Linked DNA regions of Homo sapiens. The protein of the gene in region 1 interacts with the protein of each later gene in a pairwise test. Each region holds a gene or a part of one and is shown on either strand. Other genes may lie near its edges.

Region 1 (3,300 bases):
TACAACAGAATACCACACTCTAAGTTATTTATTTATTTATTTTTTGAGACAAAGTCTCGCTCTGTCGCCCAGGCTGGAGTGCAGTGGTGTGATCTCGGCTTAGCAACTTCCACCTCCCAGGTTCAAGCAGTTCTCCTGCCTCAGCCTCCCAAGAAGCTGGGATTATAGGCACCCACCACCACACCCAGCTGATTTTTGGTATTTTTTTTTGTAGAGATGGAGTTTCACCATGTTGGCCAGGCTGGTCTCGAACTCCTGACCTCAGGTGATCTGCCCGCCTTGGCCTCCCAAAGTGCTGGGATTACAGGTGTAAGCCACCGCACCAGGCCTCCTCTGTGTAATTTATAATGAACAGAAGCTTATTTGGCTCATGGTTCTGGAGGCTGGGAAGTCTAAGAACATGGCAGCAGCATCTGGAAAGGGCCTTCATGCTGTGTCATCCCGTGGCAGAAGGCAGAAGGGCAACAGCAAGACAGCAAGAGGCGCCCAAACTGGCTTTTATAACAAACCCACTCCCTCAATAACAACATTAATCCATTTATGAGGGCAGCTGATCACCTTGTGTTAGGCCCCACTTCCTAACACTGGTGCATTGGCGATTAAGTTTCCAACACATGAACTCTGGGGGACACCTTCAAACCACAGCACCCCTTGACCCTGCCTGGCTCTCTCTTTGCCCTAGGGCTGCTTGAGCGGCCAGTGCTGCTGCCGCCTGTGTCCATTGACACTGCCAGCTACAAGATCTTTGTGTCCGGGAAGAGTGGTGTGGGCAAGACGGCGCTGGTGGCCAAGCTGGCTGGCCTGGAGGTGCCTGTGGTGCACCACGAGACCACCGGTGAGTGGGACCTCTATCCTTTGCCCATCCTGGGAGGCCCTCCTTGGGGGTGGAGGCAAGAACCTGGCCCTGGACCACCTCTTACTCTGTAGCCTTGGAAAGTCACTTCACGTCTCTGAGCCTACATGGGCTCCTTGGTCCCAAGGGGATAATAGTACCACAGGGTTGTTGTGTGGTTGCCACTAGAGGTGGTGGTGGTGGTAACATGCCTAGCATCAAGCTACGCTCAAGGTAAATGCTCAGGAAATGCTAATCTTGCTTTGTTGTTTCTCACCACTGGATGCTGATTGTTCCACCATGTTGAAACATCTCCCAGCGTCCTGGGCCCTTTGGGTCTCCCTGGACATACAAACGAAACTTGCTTTGCCATAGCTAGGGCTGCATCTTCCTGGTGTACCAGAGTCTCCTCCAGGGCCAGTTTCTGTTTCTCCCATCAGACTGAGAATTATCCCGGGTCAAGGACTGTGCCTCCCTCATCAAACTAGGGACCCATCAGGGCAGGGATGTATCTCTTCTTCCTATTCCTTCCTGGTCCCCTATTCCTCCCATCTCCACCTCTCCCATGGTGAGTGGCTGACCCTGGCTCCCCCTCAGGCATCCAGACCACCGTGGTATTTTGGCCAGCCAAGCTGCAGGCCAGCAGCCGTGTCGTCATGTTTCGTTTTGAGTTCTGGGACTGTGGAGAGTCTGCACTCAAAAAGTTCGATCATATGCTGCTGGTGAGCAGGCATGTGGGCCTGGGTGGGTTCTGCCAGGGGCCGATTGGGTATTAATGAGCTCAAGGCACTGCTCAGAGACCTGAGCTGGCACTGGAGACAGTCCCAGCCCATGCTTGTCCTAGGACCAGCCGCTCCTTGCTCTGGGCCTCAGTTTCCCAATCTGTGAAAGGAGGGATTATTCCTGATTCTTCTGAGGGCCCTGCAGCTGATGGGGGGTGACATGGTTATATGCCTCTCCATCACCAGGCTTGCATGGAGAACACAGATGCCTTCCTCTTCCTCTTCTCCTTCACTGACCGTGCCTCCTTTGAAGACCTCCCTGGACAGCTGGCCCGCATAGCAGGTGAGGCCCCTGGTGTCGTCAGGATGGTCATCGGCTCCAAGTATCCTTTGGATATCCTTGGCAAGTCACGGAGCCAGGGGGTCAGGGGCCCAGCCTCTGCCCAGGCATGGAATTCAGCACCTGGGCTTTTACTTAAAGGGTACAGCATGGCTACCCCAGCTCCTGGGTGTGGGCTCCAGGGAGGAGGGAGAGGCAGGGTCTGATGGGGGGCTGTGCAGAGGCACCCAGTTAGGCTCCTTGACCCTCCTCCAGATTTGACCAGTACATGCACACGGACGTGCCCGAGCGGGACCTCACAGCCTTCCGGCAGGCCTGGGAGCTGCCCCTGCTACGGGTGAAGAGTGTGCCGGGGCGGCGGCTGGCTGATGGGCGCACACTGGACGGGCGGGCTGGGCTGGCCGACGTTGCCCACATACTCAATGGCCTTGCTGAGCAGCTGTGGCACCAGGACCAGGTGGCGGCTGGCCTGCTTCCCAACCCCCCAGAGAGTGCTCCTGAATGAGTCACGAGTGGTTGCCTGTGATCCCACCCCCAACCCTCAGGTCTCGACATAGGGCTGGAGGCTGGGGCAGGAACATGGATCCTATCTGGAGGACTGGCCAGCATGGCCTGATCAGGGAGGATGTGGCCAGAGAAGGCCCACCCGCGAGCAGCGCTTTCCTTGCAGAATTCATGGCAGGGAGGTGGGGACCAAGGCCCTGAGCTCGAACATCTCCCGTGGCCTTTCCCCCTTTGGCAGCACCGATGGAGGATGACTGGGAGAGGGGGTGCCTCTCAAGTTACTTCAATCAAGAACCTGTATTGGTTGAGGTGACACCATCTGTTGTAACAGATAAACCCCGAAATCCCAGTGCTGAACTCCAGAGACGTGTTCGTTCTCACGTAGGCCTCAGCTCGGGAGGAGGTGACAGTGGGCGTGGGGCTCTGCTCCAGGCGCTCCTGCAGAGACCCAGCCCCAGAGACCCTACCCTGCCCAGTTGCCCTAGGGTGTCAGCACCCAGTCAGCAGCCAGGGAGTGAGTGCAGGCAGGAGGTGTCCCCCCGCTTTCTGTGGACCAGGCCCAGGGTGGCACCTCATTCTGCCCACATTCCAGAGGCCAGCACCCAGCAGTCATGTGGTCATGTGGCGCTGTGGGGGAGGCTGGGACATGGAGTCCACCTGTGAGTCCAGGAGTTAAGCCCGTCGCGCTGCAGGGCCCTTTTTTTTTTTTTTTTTTTTTTTTCCAGAGTCTTGCTCTGTGGCACAGGTTGGAGTACAGTGGTGCACTCTCAGCTCACTGCAACCTACACCTCCTGGGTTCAAGCGATTCTCCTGCCACAGCCTCCCAAGTAGCTGGGATTACAGATGCCAACCACCATGCCTGGCTAATTTTTGTATTGTTAGTAGAGATGGGGGTCTCACTA
Region 2 (3,123 bases), on another chromosome or scaffold:
TCCCTGTTCCATCTACAGGCAGCCTGTGGGCCCCCCTGGGGTACCTGCCCCTGGCGATGGCCCTGCCTTGCAGCCTCCTGTGCCTGCTGCACTGGGGGACTTGCATCCTGGTTTCTGTGGACAGCGTTGCCTCAGGGTGGCTGGGTTCACAGGGGTCAGGTGCAGGAAAAACAGAGGTGTTAGATTCAGCTGGACGCCCACTTGGGCTGACGGGCCAGCTCTAGGCCAGGCCAACCTACCCAAGCCCCACCTCCTAGACCGTCCCACCCATCCCCGCCTCCAGGCCCTGGGAGCTGGACTGAGGACCAGGCCCTAAGAAGGTGCCTCCCGCACAACCACAGGCCCAGGCGGGCCACGGAAGACGCTGCCCGGGCCCTGCGGAGGGCTGGGGCTGGGGCTGGGGCTGGGGCTGGGGCCGGGGCCGGGGCCGGGGCCGGGGTTGGGGTTGGGGTTGGGGCTGGGGCCGGGGCCGGGGCCGGGGCCGGGGCCACAGACTTCACTGCTGGACATGAATAAAGTCCACGGTCGTGGTCCTGCCTGTGTCTGTGCTCAGGGCCTGAGCAGGGGGGCCCGGGAATGTCCTAGCCGGGGCCAAGCCTGTGGGGACAGGGGCACAGGACTCCCACCACCGGCTCCTGGGGCCACCCTGAGTGCTGGCCTGGCCCTCAGCACAGTGGCAGCAGGGTCAGGAAGACCTCCAAGGGCCCCCACCTGGCCTGGGGGCGCAAGACCAGAGGGAGAGGGGCCACGCTGGTGGGGTCACAGAAAGTCCTCGGAGGCCACAAGACGTGTCTGCAGGGGGCATGTTCCCGTTTACTGAGCGCGAGTTCTCTTGGGGTGGAACGGGGACCACCCGTGCCTGCTCCTGGCCAGGCGGGGATCCCCAGCAGGGCTGGGGCCAGCAAGGGAGTGGGGCCCTCAGGCCAGGGTGGAGGCTAGGAGCAGTGCCAGGACGGTGAGAACAGGTCCAGGTCCTAGGAGGCAGGGCGTCCCCGAGAGGGCCTCTACAGAGAGAGGGGTGACTCAGAGCGCCCACCTCCACGCCCCCAGCTCTGCCCCCAGCCCTGGCCTGGCCGCCCCGCCCACCTTGCATGCTGAGGTCTAGGACCAGGTAGCCGTTGGGGATGCCGCCCTGTAGCCCCAGCCCCAGCGTGTCCAGGTCGTCCTGCCGCTGCCGTAGGATCCAGTCCCGCACCGGGCGGTGCCGCTCCTCCGCCTTCAGGCCCTCCACGTGGGGTCCCAGAAGTTTCTGCACCTCAGCCACAGTCAACGGCTGCCAGAGACCCCGGGCAGCCATCAAGGAGGGTCTCCTTCCCTCAGCGCCGCCAGAGGGCTGCCAGGCTCTCCTGTGTCCAAACTGCCCCACCCACAGATGCCCACCGCAGCCTCTCCAGACTTCGGAGGTCTCCGGCCAGCTGACCTCAGCTCAATGGCTGCCCTTCCCTAGGCCCCACCACACGGGAAGATGCTGCCCTTCCTAAGGCCTCGCCCCACTGCAGACCCGCCTTACACGCCCTCCCACCCCCCGTTGGCCCCTCCTCCATGCGCCCCTCCACCAGGGCTTCTCCACTTGCCCCCCCCTCCATGTGCCCCTCCTCCACGCGCCCCCTCCACGCGCCCCCCTCCACACCCCCCCATGCGCCCCTCCTCCTCCACGCGCCCCCCTCCACGCCCCCCCACACGGCCCCCTCCACGCGCCCCTCCTCCACGCGACCCCTCCACGTGCCCCCTCCACGCGCCCCCCTCCACACCCCCCCATGCGCCCCTCCTCCTCCACGCGCCCCTCCTCCACGCACCCCCCTCCACGCCCCCCCATGCGCCCCCCCCACGCGCCCCCCTCCACGCGCCCCTCCTCCACGCCCCCCACGCTCCCCCCTCCACGCGCCCCTCCTCCACGCGCCCCCCTCCACACCCCCCCATGCGCCCCTCCTCCTCCACGCCCCCCCACACTCCCCCCTCCACGCGCCCCTCCTCCACGCCCCCCACGCTCCCCCCTCCACGCGCCCCTCCTCCACGCGCCCCTCCTCCACGCCCCCCACGCTCCCCCCTCCACGCGCCCCTCCTCCACGCGCCCCTCCTCCACGCACCCCCCCACACGCCCCCCCTCCACGCGCCCCTCCTCCCACTCGCCCCTCCTCCACGGGCCCCTCCTCCACACGCCCCTCCTCCCGCTCGCCATACCAGCACCGCATCCGTCCGCAGCTTCATGAACGTGGCCAAGTCCATGCTCACATTCTGCTGACTGAGCGCCTTCAAATCCTCCGTGGGGGCCCCACCTGCCCGCCGGGAGAGGGGCCCGAGCTGAGGCCTCACCTCACACCCCCAGGCCCTTGACCACAGGCTGCAGGAAGCCCACTTGCCTTACAGGGCTTCCCTTTTTCCTTAGGGATTCCAGGGCCTGGGTTTGCCTAGCCGCCTGACCCCCAGGCGTGGGAGACCCTGGAGGTGGCTGGCGCCCCGAGCTGGGGTCAGAACCCACAGCCCCTAAGGCCATACACACCCCGGGGGGCAGAGGGCGGGTGACCACCCAGTTACCCTGGCAGCAGACGGCCCGGCGAGGCAAAGGCCTGGCACCCCCGAGTGGAGTCTGTGCTTCCCCCGTTGTGTTGCCCACCCTGGCCAGGGACTCCCTGGCTCACCCAGGAAGGACTGGATCTTCACGAAGTATTCGGACCCGTTCATGTTCTGGAAAGCAAGGCGGGCCTTGGGATAGAGGACGTCCAGCTGCCTTGGGTCACACGTGTCCAGGTCCTGGGGCCTGACCGCCCTGGGGACACGGTGGGTGGACAGTGAGCGCCAGCACACGGACCCACCTTGCCGGGCAGAGTTCTGGGGACTCACCAGATGCTGCTGGGGGGCACGGAGCTCAGCTCCTCGGGGCTGAGGGAGCACAGGTACCCAGGGTAGAAGGCGGTCAGGGTGTCTAGGGTGTCTTTGTCTAGCTGGCCCCTTCCCTTCACAAAGCGGTCGATCAGGGTGGCCACCTGTGGGAGGGGCCGCCGAGGAGCCTTGTGGCAAGGAGAGATGTATCCCTCCACCACCAGCATAACCTCAGGCCGTGCCCCTGACCCCAGGCCCGCCCAACCTCAGGCTTTGTCCCCCACTCTGCCCCTCAGCCCTTCC

The links.
Region 2: the proteins of CPLANE2 (region 1) and MSLN interact in a two-hybrid assay, tested with the Homo sapiens proteins (one large-scale study listed by BioGRID and IntAct).

What each region holds. Positions count from the first base shown.
Region 1 is NC_000001.11:16,231,147-16,234,446, reverse strand, and holds the end of CPLANE2 (ciliogenesis and planar polarity effector 2), read left to right. Parts: intron 1-682; coding exon 683-835; intron 836-1,429; coding exon 1,430-1,554; intron 1,555-1,800; coding exon 1,801-1,937; coding exon of another isoform or gene 1,938-1,948; intron 1,949-2,149; coding exon 2,150-2,399; 3' UTR 2,400-2,755; downstream 2,756-3,300. UniProt on the Homo sapiens protein: Required for efficient primary cilia initiation, regulating a late step in cilia initiation. Plays a role in the final maturation of the mother centriole and ciliary vesicle that allows extension of the ciliary axoneme.
Region 2 is NC_000016.10:766,529-769,651, reverse strand, and holds the end of MSLN (mesothelin isoform 1 preproprotein), read right to left. Parts: intron 3,009-3,123; coding exon of another isoform or gene 2,985-3,008; coding exon 2,842-2,984; intron 2,768-2,841; coding exon 2,640-2,767; intron 2,277-2,639; coding exon 2,182-2,276; intron 1,274-2,181; coding exon 1,087-1,273; intron 1,005-1,086; coding exon 919-1,004; 3' UTR 790-918; downstream 1-789. UniProt on the Homo sapiens protein: Membrane-anchored forms may play a role in cellular adhesion. Megakaryocyte-potentiating factor (MPF) potentiates megakaryocyte colony formation in vitro.